Linked DNA regions of Homo sapiens: region 2 is linked to region 1. The links come from fine-mapping of genetic effects on gene expression. A gene starts in region 1. The other region holds a variant in brackets. All regions are shown on one strand. Distances are between the middles of the regions.

What was found. PIP is the estimated chance that this variant, and not a neighbour inherited with it, causes the effect.
Region 2: its variant is the best candidate, but not a certain one, in a credible set for the expression of SEC23B in CD4 T cells (BLUEPRINT, PIP 0.81).

What each region holds. Positions count from the first base shown.
Region 1 is chr20:18,505,606-18,510,980 of GRCh38, forward strand. SEC23B (SEC23 homolog B, COPII component) reads left to right here and starts at 2,335. Exons shown (of 20, transcript NM_006363.6): 1 at 2,335-2,367; 2 at 5,217-5,375. The coding sequence starts at 5,231. RefSeq lists enhancers at 1,876-2,205, 2,556-2,605.
Region 2 is chr20:18,600,818-18,606,192 of GRCh38, forward strand. The region is part of intron 3 of DTD1 (D-aminoacyl-tRNA deacylase 1); the gene reads left to right. Among named protein-coding and RNA genes, the nearest start is that of DTD1, 15 kb to the left of the region's middle. The variant T/C (reference allele first, on the strand shown) is at 2,529.

The DNA of each region.
Region 1 (5,375 bases):
ATGCATGCAAAATTTCTTAAAAATGCTGAAACCATCCTGACAGGGTTAACAAGATTACAAGCCAGCCTTTAGGCAGGTTAGTTAGGCACTGACCAGGGTGCATTGGTGCCCTTCAATTCACTTCCCTGCAGCTGCTAACTAACCAAAAGCCTTGCAGCACACTGATCACCTACTCCCTGATTGCTCCTATCCACAGAATCTCTGACACTAGCTCTTTGTACCCAGGAATTGCTTAAGGTATTTTTCAGATCCTGAATTCCCACAAAACAGCTGATGCCAAACTGTCTAGGGATCCCCACCAGGAAGGGCACAGTGGCTCACGCCTGTAATCTTAGCACTTTGGGAGGCCAAGGTGAGAGGATCGCCTGAAGCCCGGAGTTTGAGACTAGCCTGGGCAACAAAGTGAGACCCTGCTTTACAAAAAAAAAATTTTTTTAAATAAATAAATAAAGACCTCCACCAAGAAACAACACTGGAATGAAGTTTCTTCATCTCCCTGTCCCATGACTTCACCTCTCACTTCCTGACCAATCAGAAATCCCCACACTTTAGCCCATTGCCCCTCCAGACTTCTTAAAAATGCCATCTCTAATCTCTTGGGGAGGTGGATTTGAGGATTGCTCTTGTCTCCTCATTTGGCTGCCACTTGATTATGGAACTCTTTATCTGCTGCAACTCCTATTCTTTCTGTTACCGCACAATGGACAATCGAACCTGATGGTCCTATAACAATCTTTCTTACAGAAATTGCTAGTACAGAAAGAATCCAGGTTCAAATAATCAAGGCAAATCTTTGGCGAATAATATTAAGTTTTGGTTAAAAAAAATCCCAGCTATGTCTTTTCTCAGTGTTAAGTATTATACATGTGTACATTTTGAGTTTGTTTCCTTACCGAGAATAATTAATCTGAACTTCCTAAATTTATAAAAGTTTACTATTGATAAGCTAATATTAACATTACATTGTTTAAGATCCTGAAAAATGTGAATTTGTTCAACAAAACTGAATCATTCTCACATTTAACAGTAATTGTTTCTTTGTGCCTTAAACTATTAATAATTTCTATGATCTGTAGATAACTTAAAACTTAGTATTAAATTGAGCTAATTAATGGATACTTCTTGGATGCCTAGATATGTTCTTGCATAATTTTATGTTTACATCGTTTTGCTTATTTTTATATGCTACAGAGACTACAACTCTGAGTCACAGTAATGATGTGTTCATGTTTGCCACTTGTCAGCGTGTGTAAAAATGGTTGTGGTGGCTTTATACAGTTGTGTTCTATCGCGCCTTTTGCAGCAACATGGATGCATCTGGAGGCCATGATCCTAAAAGAATTAACGCAGAAGCAGAAAACCAAATACATGTTCTCACTTGAAAGTGGGAGCTAAGCATTGGGCACACATGGACACAAAGGTGACATTAATAGACGCTGGGGACTACTAGAGTGGGGAGGGAGGCAGGGAGGGGCTGAAAAACTTGGGTACTATGCTCAGTATCTGGGTGACCAGCTCATTCGAATTCGAAACCTCATAGCCAGGTAACAAATACGCAGTGTACCCCCTAAATCTAAACGTTGGAATTATTTTTTAAAAGAAAGTTATGTTCCATGTATTTCTAAGCTTACTCTCCTAAAATGGTTGAATATTACAGTTCTCAATTATTTATCTCCATGTAGAAGGATGACAGGGACTGTGCGCTAGTGCCAGCCTCCGCTGAGAGCGCCAAGACATTACAGCAAGCGACGGTAGGAGAGCTTGTAACGTGAAGCACCACCACACCTCTGTACTTCAAACTTAACCACAGAGACCGACTCCCAAACCAGCAAGTGCGTAAGCGCCGCCGCGCTCACCACCCGCCCCGCCCCTTCCGCATGCTAATGCCTTCTTCCGGCAGCCTTAGTTTCTTCCAACCAGTGCAGCTCCCTGTTCCGCGAGCATACGTCATCGTTCTCGCTTTCCGGTAGCTAAGGCGATCAGCGGGACTTCCCACTGAGACGAGCGGATGTCATATTGTATCAGGGCGAACCTCTGAGGAGCGCTGGCTGCGCTTAGGCAACGGTGCGGCAGGCGCCGGGGTTTTCTGAAACAGAAACGTTTAGGGGTGGGGAAACGTGTTCCGAGGAACTCTCGTTTTGAAGTGCGACATACACCTGTCTTGCCCTGTTCCAAGATGGTGGCAGAGCTTCTCTGAGTCTCTCGCTTCCTCCAGTCCGTCGGAGAAGCGCTCTTTGATTGGCCAGTGGACAGCGCCGTGGCATGACGCGCTGGGGCGCTGGCCAATCGGTTGAGAGCTGAGCTGGACTTGGCGGTGGGAGCCGGAGCCTGCTTGTTGCAGCTGTGGGTGAGGACGGCTCTAGCTAGGTGAGCGGCTCCGGCCAGGTGAGCGGGGCGCATAGGTGACGGAGGGCCGAGGGCACGGGTATGAGTTTCTGCCGGGGGCGAGGTGAGCGGCTTCTGGGAGGAGGCCTTTTCTTGACAGTTTAGGGTAGCGGGGGAATGGATGATCCGGGAGTCCCCTGCGGATGTCGTCCCGCACCAGGCCGGGACCGATTTCTGGCTCCAGTTTCCCCAGAATTGCGGAGTGCGCACACCTGGAAGGACCCAAGTCCCGTTTTATAGTTGAGAAACTCAAGACTCAGACAAGTGAAACGACTTTTGCTTCATGACAGCTGGAACTGGAACCCAGGTCCTTGGACTCCCTTCAAGGATTAAACCTCACTTATTCTTACATACACATGGTCACTGTGTCCTGAGAAGTTACGAGTTGGCGCGATAAGGGTGGTTCAGATTTTTTGGCATATTCTCCTGTTATCTTTCCAGGCCTTTCATTCATTCACTAATTCATACTTTCAGTTATTTACCTCTTCAGATACCTTCCCCGATACTTTGGTAAAAGCTATGGACCCATCTCCCTAGAAAAACGGCATATTCCCTCATGCGCATAACTTCAGATGATTAGTGGACCTTCTATAGTCCCCTTGGATTATGTGTCCACTGCTAAGAATCCAGACCCTAGAAGGGTGAGGGAAACAGGCAGTAGGAAAAGGAGGGAGCAGGTCTTAGGCTGTACATGCTTGGAAACCATTAGATGGAGGCAGTAGCTTCTTTTTTTTTTTTTTTTTTTTTGAGATGGAGTCTCGCTCTGTCGCCCAGGCTGGAGTGCAGTGGCGTGATCTCGGCTCACTGCAACCAATGCCTCCCAAGGTCAAGCAGTCCTCCCTGCCGCAGCCTCCCGAGTAGCTGGGATTACAGGCACCTGCCACCACGCCCAGCTAATTTTTGTATTTTTAGTAGAGACGGGGTTTTGCCATGTTGGCCAGGCTGGTCTTGAATTCCTGACCTCAGGTCATCCACCGGCCTCGGTCGCCCAAAGTGCTGGGATTACAGGCGTGAGCCACCGCGCCCGGCCGCCAGTGCCTTTTAATAAAGAACGTTTTGAGAGAGAGACGGTTATTTAATGAAATCTGCTGACATACTTGCTGAGAGTTGTGATAGAACTTGCTTTCATTCCGACTTTAGTTATCCCTTTGCTTCCCATGAAGCTCCAGAGTGCTTCCTGTGCACACAGTGCTTCAGGTTCTTGCCGTTGCCAGAAATAAACAGATTTCTTAGAGTTTCAGTTGGAGCAAACATTGGAATTCTTGTGTTCTGGGCTTTATGTAGTAGAGTAATTCATTTGCTTTTCTAGCCATGCAATATTATTGCCTTAATCAAAATTATTTACAGTATGGTACTTCCCAAAATAACAGACAGTTGTTATCCATATTCAGGAAGTGGGCGCGAGAGGCCACTTTAATTTGATAGACTCTTTAATTTGCCTTTTTACTACTTTTCTTGAGGGGCTTGTTCCCTTGAACCCCAATAGCTGAGTTGTGTGTTACCCTAGATTTTAGGATATGAACAGGATGTATAAATACTCAATGAAGTTGGGATCATCTGGGTTTGAGAGTTTAGCCTGTAGGACAGTTTTACTGACCACAGTCTTCATTTTTTTTTTGAAACAGAGTCTGGCTCTGTCGCCCAGGCTGTGCAATGGCATTGTCTCGCCTCACTGCAATCTCTGCCTCCCGAGTTCAGACGATTCTCCTGCCTCAACCTCCTGAGTAGCTGGGACTATGGGCACGTGCCACCACACCTGGCTAATTTTTGTATTTTTAGTAGAGACGGAGTTTCACTGTGTTGGCCAGGCTGGTCTTGAACTCCTGACCTCGTGATCCGCCCATCTCAGCCTCCCAAAGTGCTGCGAGTATAGGTGTGAGCCACCACACCTGGCCTTGACCACAGCCTGTCAAGGCATGAACATAAGCAACCGTGGTGAGGAAAGAGGTTCTGGTGAGACTCAGCATAATAGTAATTTTGGTAATACCAAGTAGAAATAATTTAGCTCAAAACTGGTTCCCATTATGAACCAAACTTGAAGATCAGTATCCAGCTCTTTTCTCCAAAGTTAACAAAGTGCGGAAGGGAATGAGCACCCCCCCGCTACTGAAAAAAAAATCACTTGGAATGTAAAATTTAATAGAGGAAGAAAGGAAGGAGATTAGAGAGGAAGATAGTTGGATGCCGAAACAGGGTTCAAGACTTACCCTTGAGCAAGGGGCTGAAATTGGCTTGACTGATAGGACGTGTGATCTGTGAGGAGGTTTGAAGTAGTAGTGTTTAACTACATGTAGTTTGGAGATGATCAGGTGATTGTAAACCTCCCACTCCTTTGATTTATTTTTAAGTGCTTGAAAGGAGAGGTGAGAAAGGAGCAGTGATCAATGATAACTGTGCGGTTAACTGACTTTTGGGTATCAGATGGAAAAGAAATACTGTCATTCTACAGCAACAGGTTCTTCCCAAGTATTTAAGAAACACTGTGTTAGTTGGGCCGGGTACAGTGGGTCACGCCTGTAATCCCAGCACTTTGGAAGGCCAAGGCGGGTGGATCACCTGAGGTCAGGAGTTTGAGACCAGCCTGGCCAACATGGTGAAACCCTGCCTCTACTAAAAATACAAAAAATTAGCCGGGCTTGGTGGCACAGGCTTGTAATCCCAGCTACTTGGGAGGCTGTGGCAGGAGAATCGCTTGAACCCGGGAGGTGGAGGCTGCAGTGAGCTGAGATGGGAAAAAAAGAGAAACACTGTGTTACATGACCCATCTTCTTTTTTTGACATTTAGTTCAGAATTTCACATACCATTAAGGTAATTAAAGTTTTATCTTCAGTTCCCTTTTAGACTATGGCGACATACCTGGAGTTCATCCAGCAGAATGAAGAACGGGATGGTGTGCGTTTTAGTTGGAACGTGTGGCCTTCCAGCCGGCTGGAGGCTACAAGAATGGTTGTACCCCTGGCTTGTCTCCTTACTCCTTTGAAAGAACGTC
Region 2 (5,375 bases), 95 kb after region 1:
TTAAGATTTATACCTAAGTGTTTCATTCTGAGGGGTGCTAATGTAAATGGTATTGTGTTTTTAATCTCAAATTCCACTTGTTCATTGCTGGTATATAGGAAAGTGATTGACTTTTGTATCCTGCAGTCTTGCTGTAATCACTGCCTGGTTTCAGTTTTTTGATTTTCTTCTTGGATGATCATGTCATCTGCAAACAAAGACAGTTTTATTTTTCTTTTTATTTCTTGCCTTATTTCATTAGCTAGGACTTCCAGTCCGGTGTTGGAAAGAGTGGTGAGTGGGGATATCCTTGGCTTATTTCTGCTCTTAGTGGGAAAGCTTCTAGTTTCCCACTGTTAAGTATGACGTTTGCTGTAGGTTTTTTGAAGATACTGTTTATCAAGTTGAAGATGTTCTCCCCGGCCAGGCGTCGTGCTTCACGCCTGTAATCCCAGCGCTTTGGGAAGCCGAGGAGGTCAGATCATTTGAAGTCAGGAGTTTGAGACCAGCCTGGGCAACATGGGAAACCCAATTTCTATGAAAAATACAAAAATTAGCCAGGTGTGGTAGCACGCACCTGTAATCCCAGTTACTTGGGAGGCTGAGGCAGGAGTATCGCTTGAACGTGGGAGGCGCAGGTTGCAGTGAGCCGAGATTACGCCACTGTACTCCAGCTTGGATGACAGAGCGGGACTCTGTCTCAAAAAAAAAAAAAAAAAAAAAAGCAGTCTGACAGCTTTGAAGAGAGCAGTGGGTCTCCCAGCACGCAGCTGGAGATCTGAGAACCGGCAGACTGCCTCCTCAAGTGGGTCCCTGACCCCTGACCCCCGAGCAGCCTAACTGGGAGGCACCCCCCAGCAGGGGCACACTGACACCTCACACGGCAGGGTATTCCAACAGACCTGCAGCTGAGGGTCCTGTCTGTTAGAAGAAAAACTAACAAACAGAAAGGACATCCACACCGAAAACCCATCTGTACATCACCATCATCAAAGACCAAAAGTAGATAAAACCGCAAAGATGGGGAAAAAACAGAACAGAAAAACTGGAAACTCTAAAACGCAGAGCGCCTCTCCTCCTCCAAAGGAACGCAGTTCCTCACCAGCAATGGAACAAAGCTGGATGGAGAATGACTTTGACGAGCTGAGAGAAGAAGGCTTCAGACGATCAAATTACTCTGAGCTACGGGAGGACATTCAAACCAAAGGCAAAGAAGTTGAAAACTTTGAAAAAAATTTAGAAGAATGTATAACTAGAATAACCAATACAGAGAAGTGCTTAAAGGAGCTGATGGAGCTGAAAACCAAGGCTTGAGAACTACGTGAAGAATGCAGAAGCCTCAGGAGCCGATGCGATCAACTAGAAGAAAGGGTATCAGCAATGGAAGATGAAATGAATGAAATGAAGCGAGAAGGGAAGTTTAGAGAAAAAAGAATAAAAAGAAATGAGCAAAGCCTCCAAGAAATATGGGACTATGTGAAAAGACCAAATCTACGTCTGATTGGTGTACCTGAAAGTGATGGGGAGAATGGAACCAAGTTGGAAAACACTCTGCAGGATATTATCCAGGAGAACTTCCCCAATCTAGCAAGGCAGGCCAACGTTCAGATTCAGGAAATACAGAGAATGCCACAAAGATACTCCTCAAGAAGAGCAACTCCAAGACACATAATTGTCAGATTCACCAAAGTTGAAATGAAGGAAAAAATGTTAAGGGCAGCCAGAGAGAAAGGTCGGGTTACCCTCAAAGGGAAGCCCATCAGACTAACAGCGGATCTCTCGGCAGAAACCCTACAAGCCAGAAGAGAGTGGGGGCCAATATTCAACATTCTTAAAGAAAAGAATTTTCAACCCAGAATTTCATATCCAGCCAAACTAAGCTTCATAAGTGAAGGAGAAATAAAATACTTTACAGACAAGCAAATGCTGAGAGATTTTGTCACCACCAGGCCTGCCCTAAAAGAGCTCCTGAAGGAAGCGCTAAACATGGAAAGGAACAACTGGTACCAGCCGCTGCAAAATCATGCCAAAATGTAAAGACCATCGAGACTAGGAAGAAACTGCATCAACTAATGAGCAAAATCACCAGCTGACATCATAATGACAGGATCAAATTCACACATAACAATATTAACTTTAAATGTAAATGGACTAAATTCTCCAATTAAAAGACACAGACTGGCAAATTGGATAAAGAGTCAAGACCCATCAGTGTGCTGTATTCAGGAAACCCATCTCATGTGCAGAGACACACATAGGCTCAAAATAAAAGGATGGAGGAAGATCTACCAAGCAAATGGAAAACAAAAAAGGCAGGGGTTGCAATCCTAGTCTCTGATAAAACAGACTTTAAACCAACAAAGATCAAAAGAGACAAAGAAGGCCATTACATAATGGTAAAGGGATCAATTCAACAAGAAGAGCTAACTATCCTAAATATATATGCACCCAATACAGGAGCACCAAGATTCATGAAGCAAGTCCTGAGTGACCTACAAAGAGACTTAGACTCCCACACATTAATAATGGGAGACTTTAACACCCCACTG[T/C]CAACATTAGACAGATCAACGAGACAGAAAGTCAACAAGGATACCCAGGAATTGAACTCAGCTCTGCACCAAGCAGACCTAATAGACATCTACAGAACTCTCCACCCCAAATCAACAGAATATACATTTTTTTCAGCACCACACCACACCTATTCCAAAATTGACCACATAGTTGGAAGTAAAGCTCTCCTCAGCAAATGTAAAAGAACAGAAATTATAACAAACTATCTCTCAGACCACAGTGCAATCAAACTAGAACTCAGGATTAAGAATCTCACTCAAAGCCGCTCAACTACATGGAAACTGAACAACCTGCTCCTGAGTGACTACCGGGTACATAACGAAATGAAGGCAGAAATAAAGACGTTCTTTGAAACCAACGAGAACAAAGACACAATATACCAGAATCTCTGGGACGCATTCAAAGCAGTGTGTAGAGGGAAATTTATAGCACTAAATGCCCACAAGAGAAAGCAGGAAAGATCCAAAATTGACACCCTAACATCACAATTAAAAGAACTAGAAAAGCAAGAGCAAACACATTCAAAAGCTAGCAGAAGGCAAGAAATAACTAAAATCAGAGCAGAACTGAAGGAAATAGAGACACAAAAAACCCTTCAAAAAATCAATGAATCCAGGAGCTGGTTTTTTGAAAGGATCAACAAAATTGATAGACCGCTAGCAAGACTAATAAAGAAAAAAAGAGAGAAGACTCAAATAGACACAATAAAAAATGATAAAGGGGATATCACCACCGATCCCACAGAAATACAAACTACCATCAGAGAATACTACAAACACCTCTACGCAAATAAACTAGAAAATCTAGAAGAAATGGATACATTCCTCGACACATACACTCTCCCAAGACTAAACCAGGAAGAAGTTGAATCTCTGAATAGACCAATAACAGGAGCTGAAATTGTGGCAATAATCAATAGTTTACCAACCAAAAAGAGTCCAGGACCAGATGGATTCACAGCCGAATTCTACCAGAGGTACAAGGAGGAACTGGTACCATTCCTTCTGAAACTATTCCAATCAATAGAAAAAGAGGGAATCCTCCCTAACTCATTTTATGAGGCCAGCATCATTCTGATACCAAAGCCGGGCAGAGACACAACCAAAAAAGAGAATTTTAGACCAATATCCTTGATGAATATTGATGCAAAAATCCTCAATAAAATACTGGCAAACCGAATCCAGCAGCACATCAAAAAGCTTATCCACCATGATCAAGTGGGCTTCATCCCTGGGATGCAAGGCTGGTTCAATATACGCAAATCAATAAATGTAATCCAGCATATAAACAGAGCCAAAGACAAAAACCACATGATTATCTCAATAGATGCAGAAAAAGCCTTTGACAAAATTCAACAACCCTTCATGCTAAAAACTCTCAATAAATTAGGTATTGATGGGACGTATTTCAAAATAATAAGAGCTATCTATGACAAACCCACAGCCAATATCATACTGAATGGGCAAAAACTGGAAGCATTCCCTTTGAAAACTGGCACAAGACAGGGATGCCCTCTCTCACCACTCCTATTCAACATAGTGTTGGAAGTTCTGGCCAGGGCAATTAGGCAGGAGAAGGAAATAAAGGGTATTCAATTAGGAAAAGAGGAAGTCAAATTGTCCTTGTTTGCAGATGACATGATTGTATATCTAGAAAACCCCATTGTCTCAGCCCAAAATCTCCTTAAGCTGATAAGCAACTTCAGCAAAGTCTCAGGATACAAAATCAATGTGCAAAAATCACAACCATTCTTATACACCAACAACAGACAAACAGAGAGCCAAATCATGAGTGAACTCCCATTCACAATTGCTTCAAAGAGAATAAAATACCTAGGAATCCAACTTACAAGGGATGTGAAGGACCTCTTCAAGGAGAACTACAAACCACTGCTCAAGGAAATAAAAGAGGATACAAACAAATGGAAGAACATTCCATGCTCATGGGTAGGAAGAATCAATATCGTGAAAATGGCCATACTGCCCAAGGTAATTTACAGATTCAATGCCATCCCCATCAAGCTACCAATGACTTTCTTCACAGAATTGGAAAAAACTACTTTAAAGTTCATATGGAACCAAAAAAGAGCCCGCATCGCCAAGTCAATCCTAAGCCAAAAGAACAAAGCTGGAGGCATCACACTACCTGACTTCAAACTATACTACAAGGCTACAGTAACCAAAACAGCATGGTACTGGTACCAAAACAGAGATATAGATCAATGGAACAGAACAGAGCCCTCAGAAATAACGCCGCCTACCTACAACTATCTGATCTTTGACAAACCTGAGAAAAACAAGCAATGGGGAAAGGATTCCCTATTTAATAAATGGTGCTGGGAAAACTGGCTAGCCATATGTAGAAAGCTGAAACTGGATCCCTTCCTTACACCTTATACAAAAATCAATTCAAGATGGATTAAAGATTTAAACGTTAGACCTAAAACCATAAAAACCCTAGAAGAAAACCTAGGCATTACCATTCAGGACATAGGCATGGACAAGGACTTCATGTCCAAAACACCAAAAGCAATGGCAACAAAAGACAAAATTGACAAATGGGATCTAATTAAACTAAAGTGCTTCTGCACAGCAAAAGAAACTACCATCAGAGTGAACAGGCAACCTACAAAATGGGAGAAAATTTTCGCAACCTACTCATCTGACAAAGGGCTAATATCCAGAATCTACAATGAACTCAAACAAATTTACAAGAAAAAAACAAACAACCCCATCAAAAAGTGGGCGAAGGACATGAACAGACAATTCTCAAAAGAAGACATTTATGCAGCCAAAAAACACATGAAAAAATGCTCATCATCACTA